Homo sapiens: one gene and its partners. The protein of the gene in region 4 interacts with the protein of the main gene of each other region in a pairwise test. Each region holds a gene or a part of one and is shown on either strand. Other genes may lie near its edges. The genes, in order: RORC, ZSCAN1, CRY2 and NPAS2.

Region 1 (3,918 bases), on a different chromosome or scaffold from region 4:
GAGAAATGCTGGACAGAGGCAGGGAGATGGGAGGGGGTGGGGCCGACTGCCAGGCCGGGGAAGGAAGGAGATAGAGGTAGGGGGGTGTGCGGAGGCGGGGTGGCCTCAGGAACTCAGGAACTCAGCGCTGCTGCCAAGGGAGACAGGGAGCCTGCACCAGGCTTTTTTTTTTTTTTTTTGAGACAGAGTCTCACACTGTCGCCTGGGCGGGAGTACGATGGCACAATCTCGGCTCACTGCAACCTCCACCTCCCAGGTTCAAGCGATTCTCCTGCCTCAGCCTCTCGAGTAGCTGGGACTACAGGCACCCACCACCACGCCTGGCTAATTTTTGTATTTTTAGTAGAGACGGGGTTTCACCATGTTGGTCAGGCTGGTCTCAGACTCTTGACCTTGTGATCCACCCCTCTCGGCCTCCCAAAGTGCTGAGATTACAGGCATGGGCCACTGTGCCCAGCCTGCACCAAGCTCTGTGGTCCTGAGCCAGGTTTGGTGTTCATCTCTGTGGTTAACACATCCTGAGGTGTGAACAAGCCTGGAGCCAGCCTGTGCAGGACTAGAGAGCAGGAGAGCTTTATCTCTGTAGGAAACAGAATGGACAGGGGCACTCTGTGTCCTGGGGCCCTGAAAGCCAGACTACAGCAGGTAAGAAGGGCACTAGAGCTCAGAGAGGACTTCCCAGTGGACGCTAGTGAATAAGAATCCTCTCTAGGGACCACTCAGCACATCAGCTCTCCTCTCCTAGTTTGTGGCAAAGGCTAGTCCCCCAGAGAATGCACACAGTCCCAAAGCTATGCCCATCAGGGCCATGCGTGCCCTTCTGTGAGCATGGGTCCCTGAATCGAGAGGATCCCTCCAGGGTAGGAGTGGCCACACCATTTCTCCATAGCCGTCCCTTGACTGCCTTGCCAGTTCCTCCTGAGAGCTCACTGCCATCTCGCCCAATGCCAAAATTGTCTAGAGCCTCCCTGTTCCAAGTAGAGACATCTCAGAGAGCAAAGCATTGCCCTTCTCCATGAGCTGGGCAGCCCAGGGCTGAGGGCCATCCAGGATGCTACCTCCTCCTGGGTGGGGGTTGCTTTGCTCAGCATAATCCTGATCAGTGTCTCGCCTGCCCCTAGCCACAGGGCCCCACGGAAATGCTGAGCAGGGCCCCGGGAGGAAAGCGGGTCAGGGAGTGACGCGGGTGAGCTGGGGGAGGGGGGTCACGGACCTTATGTGGGTGGGGGGAGTAGGGGGACTTTCGGAGCAGCAGGAACTGGGAGAGGTCAAACCCTATTCCTACCCTTAACCCCTGACCTCAGAAACCTCAGCCAGGACTATACCTCCTTATCCCTTTCCCATCCCACCAGTCCTCGTGTCCCCACCCCAAGAGTGTTGTCCTGAGGATCCAGGCTGACAGCCTCTCCCCCACTCCACGGCCCAGCTCCTGAAGCCCCAGGAAGGCCCAGGAAGGCAAGGAAAGGCCTGTGCCTGGATGAGAGGGTCTGGAGTCCCAGCAAGATCAGACACCTCTCAGGAGTTTGCCCCACAGAATCCAGGAGACATTAAGGCCTCCCCCAGGCCGAGAGACTCTGAAAATTGGCTCCTGAATTGAGACAACCCCAAGATGGGGGTCCAAGATGGGGAACCCGGGGGAACTCCCCAGACCAAGAGGGAGCCTGAATACTGAGGGGCCCTGAAGAGGGACTCTCAAAGCCAATGTACCCCACAAAGCACCTAAGAGGCTGAGAAGGTCTCTGGAATTGTTTGGCCCCTGAGAAGGACCCCCCTCCCCCAGGCCAAAAAACACTCCAGAGAGACTCACATACCGAGGGACCTCCCAGGCTGAGACACCCTCAAAAGCAGACTTGAACCAGAGAAACCCTCCCATCCTTCAAGTGGGATCCGAAGCCAGTCTGCCTGGGCTTGAATCCTGACTCTGCCACTTACTAGCTGTGTAACCTTGGGCAAGTTACTTAACCTCTCTGTGTCTCACTTTCCTCCTCGAAATGAGGATAATGGTAGCTACTTCATAAAGTTTTTTTATTTTTTCTTTTTGAGACAGAGTCTTACTCAGTTGCTCAGGCTGTAGTGCAGTGGCATTATCTCAGCTCACTGCAAACTCCGCCTCCCGGGTTCAAGCGATTCTCCTGCCTCAGCCCCCTGAGTAGCTGGGACTACAGGTGCTCGCCACCATGCCTGGCTAATTTTTGTATTTTTAGTAGAGATGGGGTTTCACCATGTTGGCCAGGCCGGTCTCGAACTCCTAACCTCAGGTGATCCACCCACCTTGGGCTCCCAAAGTGCTGGGATTACAGGCGTGAGCCACTGCCCCCGGCCCACATAAAGTATTTTGTGAGGATTAGATTATCCACATAAAACATCGAGAACCATTTCTGACACATAATAGTAAGCACTATTATTATGATTATGAGTATGATGATGGTGATGATGATCATTATCTACACTCCAATTTCAGCAGTTTGGCTCCTAAGGAAATTTCTGGTTTCCTTCTGTGGATTGTGGGTATTTGCCTGGTGATTATTACTGCTTCTATCATTTCCATGTATTCCCTAGCGCAAGATATATGTGGTGTCTGCAGGGAGGAGCGTGGGCATGGGAGTGGTGGGACAGCCCCCCAGGCTGCACCACACTGGGTATGGCTGTTGGCAGTCCACAGGGTGTCAGGTGGCACATGCCACCACCCCAGGCAGACATCCTGTGACTTACCTCTGAAAACATCCCTGTCCCTGAAGTCACCTGGCAAAGAGGGTCAGGCTTGGAAGGTCCTCGGGGGTAGGAGGAGTAGAAATTTGGCTTCAGGCTCGTGTGAGCTCCATTCTGGCTCCCCAGCCAGAACTACCCTGGCGGGTGGAAACAGCTTTTACCGCGTGTGGCTGTCGCATGTGGTTTTGGAATTTTCCAACGCCCCCTACGATTGGCTGCCCCTCCCCTCACACCCTGCCCCAGGCCCAGATTGGCCACGTGGGGCGCCTGTCATCCTACTCACTGCACCCCTTGGGGGTGGGGTGGGGGGTTGTCACTTGGCCACCTGTGTGGTGCAGAGCTTAAACCCCCCAGTCCAGAAGCACTGGGGGAGAGAGCTAGGTGCAGAGCTTCAGGCTGAGGCGCTGCTGAGAGGGCCTCGCCCCGCCTCTGCCGCCAGCTGCACCCCACTCCTGGACCACCCCCTGCTGAGAAGGACAGGGAGCCAAGGCCGGCAGAGCCAAGGCTCAGTCATGAGAAGTAAGTGAATGGGGCCACCTGGGGGCGGGGGAGCCTGGACCCTGTCGTCACCCCTCTGGAAAGGAGGATGTCTTGGGAACAGTGTGAGCAAATCTGAGCAAAGCAGGGTGCGTCCTGGTCAAGGTCAAGATCTGTTGGGAGATGGGTGGAGCAGCTGGGGAGTCCTGCTGGCCAGGCGGCTCCCTGACAGCAGCAATGGTAAGAGGACTGTTGAGGAATTCCTGAGTTCCAAAAAGAACCTCCAAAAGTATCTGAGGTATCCAGGCCCTTAATTTTACAAAAAGACTGAGAGCCAAGGAGGCCGCGTACTTGGCCCAATGTTACACAGCTGGTATCTGATGGGGGCTGGTAATTACTAGGGGCCCTGAACGCACTCTCCTGTTACAGTGTTTCCCTTGTTACGGTGTTTCCCTCTGTGCCTCCAGCCTGCTTGTGAGTAAAAGGAGGCCAGAGCAGTTGCTGTGCTCTGAAGCAACAGGACAGCGAGAGTCAACTGAGGTTGGCAGGCAGCAGGGCACAGAATCCCCGCGTCCAGGCCTCAAAGCCACCAGGCTTTCTGCCCAATCCAGGGACATGAGGACTATGTGGAATCCAGTCAGGGTGCACCCGGGCACATGCCTGCGTGTGTGTGCATGTGTGTGTGTGCGTGTGTGTGTGGGGTGTGTGTGTATGTGTGTGTGTGGTTCTCCA
Region 2 (3,918 bases), on a different chromosome or scaffold from region 4:
ACAGTCCTTGGATGGGGCATCCTTGAGGCCGTCCCAGAAGCGGCACGCATGCCCTGGGGTGCAGGAGCACGGAGCTGGGGGCCCCGGGCTCACCTGCGATGGTTCTTTCTGGGACCTTGGACTCTTCCCATCTTCCTCCTCACCGAAACTCCAGTCCTGGGGTTCGACCGAGTCCAGAGATACCAGAACTGTGCGGGAGAAAGGGATCGTGAGAGGGGCCTGTTCTTCCCAGAGCCCCCAATTCTCCAGGCCTTCTGGGGAGGGCAGACTTTCCCCGAACATCCCTGCAGCACCCCTGAGGCGCAGGCAAGAGTGGCTGCAGGGCTGTCATTCTGTCCCTCCATGTGGCTGCTGGGCAGGAACCTGTGGTGACACCGAGGGCCGCTGAAGACAAGTACCCTCTTCACTCATACTCCACACCCCTGTGCGCCTCCAGAAGCCCACGAGGACACACACTGCAGCACTGACTAACTAGGGAGGCCCGAGCACTGTGAGCCCTCTGCTCCCCAAGCCCCCCGGGGCTGTGTGCACAGAGTGCACAGAGGACGACTGCTGAAGCAGGGTTCAGGACACCATTGACAGAAGGGTCAAGACGTGGGAACCAGGCCAGGCGTGGTGGCTCACACCAGTAATCCCAGCACTTTGGGAGGCTGAGGCAGGAGGACTGCTTGAGCCCAAGAGTTTGAGAGCAGCCTGGGCAACACAGCAAGACCCCCCCCTATTTATTTTTTAATTAAAAAAAGAAAAATTCAAGATCACGGCCACCTCTGGGGTGTCAGGCAGAGCGGGGGACAACAGGACTAGGAGACGTGCATGGGGGTTCAGCTGATTCCACTGGTTGTTCCTTTTTTTTTTTTTTTTTTTTTTGAGACGGAGTCTCGCTCTGTCGCCCAGGCTGCAGTGCAGTGGCGTGATCTTGGCTCACTGCAAGCTCCGCCTCCTGGGTTCAAGCGATTCTCCTGCCTCAGCTTCCTGAGTAGCTGGGATATAATATAGGCACGCGCCACCACGCCCGGCTAATTTTTGTATTTTTAGTAGAGACGGAGTTTCACCATGTTGGCCAGGCTAGTCTCGAACTCCTGCCTTGTGATCCGCCTGCCTTGGCCTCCCAAAGTGCTGAGATTACAAAGCATTTCCTAGGTTGGGCTTTGATAAGGGTGGGTGGCCGGTGCAGGGCTGTTCATTATACTTGCTCTACTGTTTCATAGGCTCAAAATATGGAATGTAGAAAGCAGACCACCGCTATGGAAGACAGATAGAGAGCCCTTTGCTCAAAAACGTTGAATTTTGAGAGTGACCATGGAACATTAAAACTAGCAAGGGTGGCTCTGGGCTGGGATGGCTGTGAGGTCCACAGAGCGCCAGAAGCCAGTGCTCTTGGGCCCTCTACCCCAGGATCAGAGAGTTCAAAGGGCCAATTCATCTGGCTTCTGCCTTGCAGCTTACAGGGCTACCCTTGAGCCTCTGGAAAGCTCAGCTGTCACAGCTTTCCTAAGTGTGGCACCGGCTGCCCTGGGGCAGTAAGGGGACCCTGGACCCTGTGTTCTGCAAACTGCTTATCACTGTTGGTCTACGGAAATGCTGTAGTGGGAGGGTGCAAAGGGAGGGCCTGTTCCTCTCCCTTGCTCCACCCCTCTTTTCTGTGAGCTCTGATGCAACCCTTCTCACTCCCAGCCTTTGCTCCTGCAGCGTGGCTGCCTGGCACCCTCCTTGCTGGGGCCCTGCTGGGGAAGCCCTCCCGAGGCCACAGTGCCACGACTGCTCTCACCATCCGTGGCTGCCTCTTTTGGCCTCCCAGTGTCCAATCCCTGCACTTTTGTCACTAGGAAAGAAAGAGCCCCACTCATGGGACTGGGCCCTGGGTGGATGGAATCTCGACGTGGGGTCACAGGGGCAAAGATGCAGAAGGACAAAGCCCTGTCAGGGGAGAGGGGAGCTGAGAGAGGAGACAGGGAGGGAGCCCAGTTTCAACCCCAAATTTCCCAGCTCCCAGAGTCGGGATGCAGACCTAAGCGTCTCTCCCCACCATCAGCCAGCGATGGGGCCTGCGCCCTGTGAAGGCTTAAGGATCTCTAGGATTCCTGAGTGTTGCAGGAGGCGCTGCAGGTGGCTGGGAGGAAGTGGCGAGGCAGCGTCCTTCCCAGAGAGCAGCCGTGAGGAGCAGCAGACACAAAGCCACAGGACAGATGGACGCATGGGAAATGGAGGGATCTTTAATCACCGACTGAGTGAGAAATTCGAGGCAGATGAGGCGTGCAGCACATTTATATGTAAAAATAATTAAAAACACAGCCGCGGGGCAGGAGAGGTTTGCTGGTCGGGAGGGGCCGGGCAGGGGTGGGAGCGATGTGGGCGGGAAGGAGGGCAGTTCGGTCCTCGGAGACGTCAGGCCCCCTGGCCCGGCCCGGGGCAGGAAGCCTGCGCCTCTCACCTTCCTGCTGGCACATCTGTGTGAGGTCCTCCACCAGGCTGGCGGCCTCCCTGCAGCTTCGGGGGCCCTGTGACTGCACCCAGGTCCGCATCTTGCTGGGCAGCGCGCCCAGGAACTGCTCCAGCACCAGCAGCTCCAGCATCTGCTCCTTGGAGCGCGCCTCGGGCCTCAGCCACTGGCGGCACAGCGTCCAGAGCTGGCCCAGCGCGAGGTGCGGCCCGCTCGCCACGTGGTACTGGAACTGCCGGAAGCGCAGACGCTGGGCTTCGGTGTCCCTGGGGCTTGCTGGCCCAGGGTCTGCGTCCTGCTCACTCGGGGTTGGGGTCTGGGGGCGTCTGGGGGAGGCAGGGGCTTTGGGCCGTGGAAGCATTTCTCTGGCCACAGTGCCCCTCTGAGGGGTGTGTGTGGACTGGATCCCGAGTCCCAGTGGCTCCGGACAGAGCCGGTGTGGCAGGCGGACAGAATCAGCAATCAGGGGCCTGCAGAGAGGGGCAGGGACAGAGGGGTCACATCAGATGGTGGCCCTCTGTACTCAGGATGCCCCTCGGCTCCTTACTTCCTTGTTCTGACCTCCAGCACCCCAAGGAACCAACCTGACCTCTTCCCACCTTCTGACCTAATCTTCCACATGCCTCTCACAGGCTACTTTGCACTGAGTTCAAGCCACTGGCTGCCCCAGGACCTTTGCACCTGCCATCCCACCCCAGCCCCTCCCCTTCCCACCCCAGCTCCTCCCCTCGCAGATGTCCTGGCCATCATCCTTATGGCACTGTCTTCATAACCTCCATGACTTTCTGAACACAACTTTTCCCCTTACTTAGTGTCTATCTCCCTCTCATTTAGTCATTCAACACACATTGACTGACGAGCTGCGGGAACAAGAATGCCTGCCCCGTGGTGTGGCCAGCACTGCCCAGTGAAGTTCCTACAGGGATGTAAAGATTCTCTACCCATGCAACCACCTACGTGTGGCTAGGAGCACCTGAAATAGGAACTGAATTTTAAATTTAAATTCCATTTAAATGGAAGCAGCCAGGTGGGCTACATAATAATGGATGACACCACCACCAGCAGCAGGTCTACCCATGGTGTTATCTTTGCTGTCTTCCTGACTTTCCTACCAGGTCCAAGCTGGGGGTGGAGACCAGGAAGAGGGCAAGGGAGACTGGAGACTCTGAAAAGAGAGGGAAAGTGGGAAGAGTAATTTTAAAATAACCTTTTGTGGCCGGGTGCCGTGGCTCACACCTGTAATCCCAGCACTTTGGGAGGCCCGGGTGGGTGGATCACCTGAAGTCAGCAGTTCAAGACCAGCCTGACCGACATGGCGAAACCCCGTCTACTAAAAATACAAAAATTAGCCGGCGTGGTGGTGCACACCTCTAATCCCAGCTACGTGGGAGGCTGAGGCAGGAGAATTGCTCCAACCCAGGAAACAGAGGTTGCAGTAAGCCAAGATCGCACCACTGTACTCCAGCCTGAGTGACAGC
Region 3 (3,053 bases), on a different chromosome or scaffold from region 4:
TGCAGGCCAGACTGTGATATTCTTGGGCCTTGCCTGGGCCCCTTCCCAGAAAGTTGGGGTGTGAGCTAATAAAGCTTTCAGTCCAAGGCTAGCATCCCCTAGCATGGAAGCAGGGCACACTGCACAGAGAGGGGCCATTCTCTGGCCAGGAGACAAAGCCAGCATCCAGGCGCCCTAGGCTTGGCTGTGGGCAGATCTCAACCACCTAGTCACAGCCAGAGAGCCTGCATCCCCTCCTCACCACAGGCTGCAGCTTAAGTGGCTGCATTGAATTAAAGGATGGATTGAGGGCGTGGAGCAGGCCCTGCACTGACTGACCCCCAGCCTGGGAGGGGGTTTAAGTGGGCTGCAAGGCTGGGTGGCACTGCAGGATGGCACTTAGGACCCTCACTCTGGGCCAGAGTGCTCTGTACTATTTTGGCCAATTGACCCCCAACTCTTGACCAAGCTCTGGACCAACTCTTGACCAAGCTGCTCCAGTCTGCTCTGGCTGCTCCCCCTTCCTAAGGAGGAATAGGAGGCTCCTGACTCCCACAGAACCAAGATGGGGTGGCCGACAGCTTCATTCAGGCTCAGGCTTACCAAAACCCTGGTTCCCAGGCCTCCCACAAGATTGACGACAGCACAAACTTACTCAAGACAGGTCAGACATTTATAAAACAAGTGAATATTCACAAACAAATTGTGGGAGAAACACACCTTCCCAGCAATAGAAAATCTCTATAAAGTGCATTTTGCCTGCAACCATCTCTTCCCCATGCTGGCCCTTGGGTCAGGATTTGAGGCACTGTTCCGAGGGAGCCCTCAGGGCCACCTGAGCTGGGAGAAGGGAGGCATGAAGCCACCATGGAGCTCCAGGCTACTGGACATACCCTCTCTACCCTGCCCTTCCCTCTTGGCTCCAGGAGTGCACTGCCTGACTCCACTGGCAGGTTGATCTGGGAACGGGCTGACATGCTAGGGATGGTGGAGAAGTAGGCGGAGGTGGTCCTGCCAACCTGTACCTTAGGGAAGAGAGCCAGCAGCAGACAGGCAGGAAAAGGAATCATCCTGCTACCCGAAGGCGCTGCTAGTGAATACTAAATCTGGGCCTCGGCCTTTGGCCTTCCCACTCTCAGATTTGCCCTTCCAGGTTTGCTTGACTCTCTTTCTGGCAGTGGCCCGATTCTCTTTCCTCTCGACTGGGGCTGAGGGAACAGGGAAGCCCCCAACCCAATGCTCTGAATGCACACCATCCCCTGTGCCCTGCTCCCCTCCCACGATGATGGGACATTTCTAGTGAAGGTGACATACGTACAACAGTTGGACTCTAAAGGCAGCTCTCTGGCTGAGAAAACCTGAGGATATCTCAGGAAGAAGCCTGTCAGTGTGATGGACAGCTACAGGAGATGGGTCTGACCCCAGGGTTCTGGTCCAAGGACAGAGGACAGTGAGGGACAGGGCTGGGGCCAAAAGAATTAACAGATCTGAGGCTAGGAAAGGTCACAGGGGAGGTAGAAAGGAAAAGGCCCAAAGGCCAGCTTAATGATACACGTGAGGACAAAAATCCAAACAGGAATCAGCCTCATAGCCACACACACACACACGTACCACACACGCACACACACACACACACTTTGTGGCTCAAGTGCAGGCCACAGGGTGGAAGGAAGACTTGCTTTAGTTGGCCACCGTCGTCCTTTTGCATGACATCTTTCTCAACACAGGCCTTTGGCAGTGGGAAGGAAGAGGTGGGAGGCACAGGCCACTCCTGGAATGCAAGGATTGGCTTCTCTGGGTCAAACCTCCCACCTACTGCTCCTGGAAGGAATGGTGTTCTGGGTGTAATCTCTACTTGGACTTTTGCCAACTGCCCCTGGCAGTCCCCATCCCTGAGTCCCTCTGCCTGAGTCCTTGGAGCTCAGCTACTGGGATAGCTGACATGGCAGTCTGGATGCTGACAAGTCCAGGACAGGCCCTGGAAGCCAACAGAATAAAGACTAGAATGGTTTCCCTGGCTGGGTGTCAGCTGTCCTCACTGGCAGCACTGTGGTGCCTTGGAGTGTGGCCAGAGAAACCAGGGGGCCTTACGCCACTGCAACCTGGTCTCCTCCTGGTAGAGTGAGTCAGTTTGACCCTTGCCCCTTCACAGCTCCTGGGTAGGCTCTGAGGCTGGCTCTTAGCTTCTGGGGAAGGAACAATGACAGCTGGGATTCTCTTTCTAATTTTAGGTTCTAAATCCTGAAAAGGTAGGTGTGCTGTCTTAGGCTCCTATTACAGTACCAGGCATACCCCACACCAGTCAGGTATCTGTGTGTACTTCTGTAGGGTGGTGGAAACTTTTTAGATCTGTCTATGGCCTCATGCTCAGTCCCAGAAGCCCAAGGAAGGGCCTGGGACTGAGCCCAGTAGCAGAGAATTTTAAAATAAGAAACAGAGGCCAGGTGGCTACGTCTGGACAGCATCCATCCACTCCGGCCTGCTCAGCCTCCAGGTCAGAAAGCAGGAACTCAGCAGGGCTCTGGCTGCCTCCAGAATCCCATGCTTTGGACAACAGCCAGAACTGCTGTGCTCCTGCTCCACAGCCTGACGTGAGGAGGGAGGGAAGGAGGTCTAGGGAGGCAGATGCCAGAATCCCAGCTAGGGTCCTACCACTACGTTCTGTTCAGACAAGGCAGCTGGCTTGCAGGAACAGGTCTCAGCTGAAAGTCACTGCCATAACCTCGAGCCTTGTGTCTGGAGGCCGGGAAACAGCACTGGCGTGCTACAGGTACTCCCCCAGCCCAGGCAACATTCAGAATCATGAGTGTCAACAGATGCATGCACACACAAACAGGCACACCACTCCCTCCTCTGCACACGCGCACACACACACACATGCTCGCTCTATCTCTGCCCGGTGATCAGCTTCTCTGCAGGTTGTACTCTGCTGCTGCGGTGGCTGCTTGGGCACCCAGGCTTTGCTCACGGAGCAAGGGCTCTGCAGCTGGAAGAGAAAAACAAGTGCAAAAGGAGCATTCAGGAGGCTGCTCAGTTGCCCAGGGACACAAGCTCCTCTGGCTGCTTCTCTGGGG
Region 4 (3,918 bases):
CTGGGTGACAGAGCGAGAATCTGTCTGTCTCAAAAAAAAAAAAAAAAAAAAAAGTTCTAATGGGTACTACAGGTGAGGCATCTTTTAAAGCACAATGTTAGTGGTCGATTCATGCATTAGGATCAATAGGTCAGTGTTCCTATTTCAAGTTAAGAGTTGGCACTGAAAATACAGCTGTAAGTGGTTAATTCTTGAAACCACTTGCTAAGTGAGAACTCGGACAAGCTTGTAATTCTCACTCCCCCACATCGTAAGTCCCATCCCCCATACATTTGCTAATGTGTTCGCCTCGTATGTGGCAAAGAGCCTTCCCTGAACCCCAGCTGTGAGGGTCCTCTTGAGTCCCCCAGTATGCTGTGTACATCCCCTTCAATGCACCGACCACATCCCACAAAGTCACCCATTTCTGGCTTTCCCAGAAGACCTGCCCTGCGGGACAGCAAGTAGGTACTGATCATCCCCATATGCCAGCCTACTCAGTATCTGGCCTATGGTTAGTGACCAATACTTATCTGCTGATGAAAGAACAGTTATGAGAATTCGGTATTTTATCTCTGAAATGTATTGCATAACTTAAAAAAAAAAATCCCTGCATCACCTTAATTTCTTAATTAGGTTTAAACAGGGCGCCTATCTGGATGACAGTGGGAAGGTGCTAGGGTTTGGGGCCAAGTGAATTCCAGTGACATGGGGGTAGACGCGGATAAGGGGCCTCCACCATGCCCCCAGATCATCTCAGAGAAAACCAAGTTCCTCACCTTAAAAAGAAACCAGGTAACGAGCAGAGGCTTCTGGAGTCCCAGAGCCCTGCTGCTGGGCCCCAGTGGAGTGAACGCAAGGCCCCCATGCCTGGGCTGGGCAGTGGTACTCACGGTGCTGGTGACACCTGGCCAGGAGCTCCAGGTCATCAATGTGGTAGTAGTCATAGCCTGAGGTTCCCAGCACTTCAAAAGGCAGGTATCCTATGATTGGAGGTGCTCTGCACAAGGACAAGGAGGACTTGTCATCAGGGAGGAGACACCCTGCAGGGCTCACCCTGGTGGCCATGCCTTTCCATAATGATCAACATGGAGGCCTCATTTCTCAAGAACAAGGGGAGAAAAATAACTTTGTAATGGTCAAAATCAGAGAGGCTGTGTTTTCCAAAGGGCTCAGCTTTTTTTTTTGGCATATAGATACTCCTTTCCCTTGGCATAACTTGGCCCAAATAACAATAAGCTTTATCACTACTGGGTAATTAAAAACAGCTACAAATTGGATCAGCCCAACACCAAAGTGTAATATAAATTAAAGGGTGGGGAGGGGAGATTTGGAGTTCTTCAACTGCAAATAATGTTACAAAAGAAACAGTAAAGATTGGGCTAAAAGATCAAAGGATGTTGAAAAAAATGAGATGAGAGATTTCTCTCACACTTGCTGCTGCCTTACTGGGAGCCGGGAAGGGCCTCAAGTGAGGATCATCCCAAAGATGGCCCGGGGCTGAGCCATCAGACCCAAACACAGAACATATTCACGATGGGGCAGATGAAGTTGGAGGGAAACCACCCACCCTTGGCAGGGACGACTTTTCCTAGTGCCAGAGAGTCCTCCTCTTTCAATGGACCAGGGCCGACTCTTCTCTCCCAAGGAGAGCCTGGCTCACGCAAACAAGACTTGAGAAGGGCCCAACCCAAATATGTTTTTCTTTTCTCAAACCTGTGATCCAGAAATAAAAATTTCCATTCCAAGCTATGCCTTGAAGTGAATTCCTCTAAAGGTTCGTCAACTATGCACATTTCCTGTATTGGAAGCAGAAAAAAAAAAAAAGTTGCTTGGGTGCCAGATGCTCACCCTAGGTTTGTTCAAGAGGAACGCGTGGTGGGTAACAGAAGTTAAAATCATTTCGAGCAAGTCTCCAAGTCGTGTTGGACTGAAACTCATCATCTGTAGCTAATTTCGGTATTAGCTGATACTAAATTTATTTCACAAGCTAGGGAAAAATACCTAGGAGCCAGAATGTCACACCATCCCTTCCCATTATCGAGAAGTGGCAAACATGTGGAAAATGGCTTTTCATCGGAATCTGAATTACTCATTTAACTCAACATTCATGCCATCGATGTTGAAGCAATCACAGATGAGAGAAGGCAGACAAACCCCCAGCGCTCCAACACTCGGTTCTCACCCAGGCCTGGCCTGCATGGTATTAACGCCGGTGTGAAAGGTGGGAAGATTTACAGTTATCAGACAGCACTTCTGCGGGCTGAACAGCAAGCGATGCTGCCTTCAAAGAGAACCACTTGCAGGAAACGGGGCAGGGGAAAGGGCGTGTGTGCAGGCACAGAAGCCAGACACTTCGATTTTCAAAGCCAGTGACAACTTCACTGCAATTTATTCCCTCCCAAAAGACCATTAATTACATATAACAAAATGTGAGTCAATCATAACAGCTCCGCACAATGAACTGCCTCTCAGGTACTTGCCTTTAAGAATTGTGGTGTTGCCAGACGAACGGTGGCAATGAAGCAAACCTCCTTTCCTAGTGGCACCCGGCAAGGTCTTGAAAGGGTGTTGTCAAAACCATTACAGGAGGGGCTAGGCACTGGGGGGTTGGGAAGAAGAGGACACATAGGTTAGCCCTGTCTGGTGACAGCAGCCAATCCCTAGTTGGCACTTAACTGTAAGCCAAGCGCTGCCCCCAGGGTTTATGTAGAGTATATTAACTCATTTCATTTTCACAACTGGATGAGGTAGGTCAACTATTATTCCCATTGCAAAAAGAGGAAACCGAGGAACAGAGGGAAGTAACTTGTGCAAGACCAAAAAGCTTGCTAGAGCTGGGATTTGAGCCCATGCTGGTCACCAGCATTCAGCACTGCCTCTCACTTCCACTAGCCCTATGGCTTATAATGCTGGGAAAAATAGTCTACAAAATGAGAACACAGGCCAGGCACAGTGGCTCACGCCTGTAATCCCAGCACTTTGGGAGGCTGAGGCGGGAAGATCACTTGAGGCCAGAAGTTCGAGACCACCATGGCCAACACTGTGAAACCCCATCTCTACTAAAAAACAAACAAACAAACAAAAACAAAAATTAGCTGGGCATGGTGGTGTGTGCCTGTAATCCCAACTGCTTGGGAGGCTGAGAATCACTTGAACCTGGGAGGCGGAGGTTGCAATGAGCCAAGTTAGCACCACTGCACTCCAGCCTGGGTGACACAGTAAGACTCTGTCTCCAAACAAAACAAAACAAAACAAAACAAAACAAACAAAAAAAAGAGAAGACAGCCTCATTCTGCAGTAACGGTTTGAATACTCCAGCCAGTGTTTTAAGGTGAATTCTATAATCAGTGTTCCTGATACTGATGGTCCCAGGGAAAGTAGGGGTGTCTCGGCATCATTGACACCCCCTTCCCTGCCCCTGTCTTGGCTGGCATACCTGGGGTTCAAGGGCCTCTGTCCTGAAACTCCCCCTTGGGAGCCCAGGCTGATACAGGGGTTGGGTCTGGGCCACTGAGGAGACAGGGCTCAGGATTTAGGGGTCACCCCCAGAGGAACACAACGCCTACAACAAAACTTGCTAGTTCCCTAGTGTGGCCCAGGTGACAAAATCTGCTCTCACGCATCTTCTTACATCTTCTCAAACATCTAGGAGGGCATTACTGTCCTAGGCCCGGAATGGTTCTATAATTAACCACGGTCACTCAGAAATAACAGCAGGGATGCCATCAAGTTTTTGGGCTCTAGGCCCAGGGTTCTAACAGGGCAGAGGGGGGACTGTCCTAGGCCCACAGCCATGGGCCCACATCATGATGCCGTCTCACACCTGCAGTAGCCTCGGCAGAGTCTTCTCTGTGGGACTTGGTCCCTGCCTCCAGGGCAACTGTGGAGAACGGACTGACCTTCTGGGCCAGAGAAAAAGTTAGTTACTTTTAGATG

Evidence for each region.
Region 1: the proteins of NPAS2 (region 4) and RORC interact in a two-hybrid assay, tested with the Homo sapiens proteins (one study listed by BioGRID and IntAct).
Region 2: the proteins of NPAS2 (region 4) and ZSCAN1 interact in a two-hybrid assay, tested with the Homo sapiens proteins (one large-scale study listed by BioGRID and IntAct).
Region 3: the proteins of NPAS2 (region 4) and CRY2 interact in a two-hybrid assay, tested with the Homo sapiens proteins (one study listed by BioGRID).

Annotation. Positions count from the first base shown.
Region 1 is NC_000001.11:151,825,240-151,829,157, reverse strand, and holds part of RORC (nuclear receptor ROR-gamma), read left to right. Parts: intron 1-3,061; exon of another isoform or gene 3,062-3,221; coding exon of another isoform or gene 3,222-3,228; intron 3,229-3,918. UniProt on the Homo sapiens protein: Nuclear receptor that binds DNA as a monomer to ROR response elements (RORE) containing a single core motif half-site 5'-AGGTCA-3' preceded by a short A-T-rich sequence.
Region 2 is NC_000019.10:58,036,720-58,040,637, reverse strand, and holds part of ZSCAN1 (zinc finger and SCAN domain-containing protein 1), read right to left. Parts: intron 2,911-3,918; coding exon of another isoform or gene 2,802-2,910; coding exon 2,432-2,801; intron 189-2,431; coding exon 94-188; intron 1-93. UniProt on the Homo sapiens protein: May be involved in transcriptional regulation.
Region 3 is NC_000011.10:45,880,826-45,883,878, reverse strand, and holds the end of CRY2 (cryptochrome-2), read right to left. Parts: intron 2,966-3,053; 3' UTR 635-2,965; downstream 1-634. UniProt on the Homo sapiens protein: Transcriptional repressor which forms a core component of the circadian clock.
Region 4 is NC_000002.12:100,962,721-100,966,638, reverse strand, and holds part of NPAS2 (neuronal PAS domain-containing protein 2), read right to left. Parts: intron 2,582-3,918; coding exon 2,463-2,581; intron 1,779-2,462; coding exon 1,696-1,778; intron 980-1,695; coding exon 873-979; intron 1-872. UniProt on the Homo sapiens protein: Transcriptional activator which forms a core component of the circadian clock.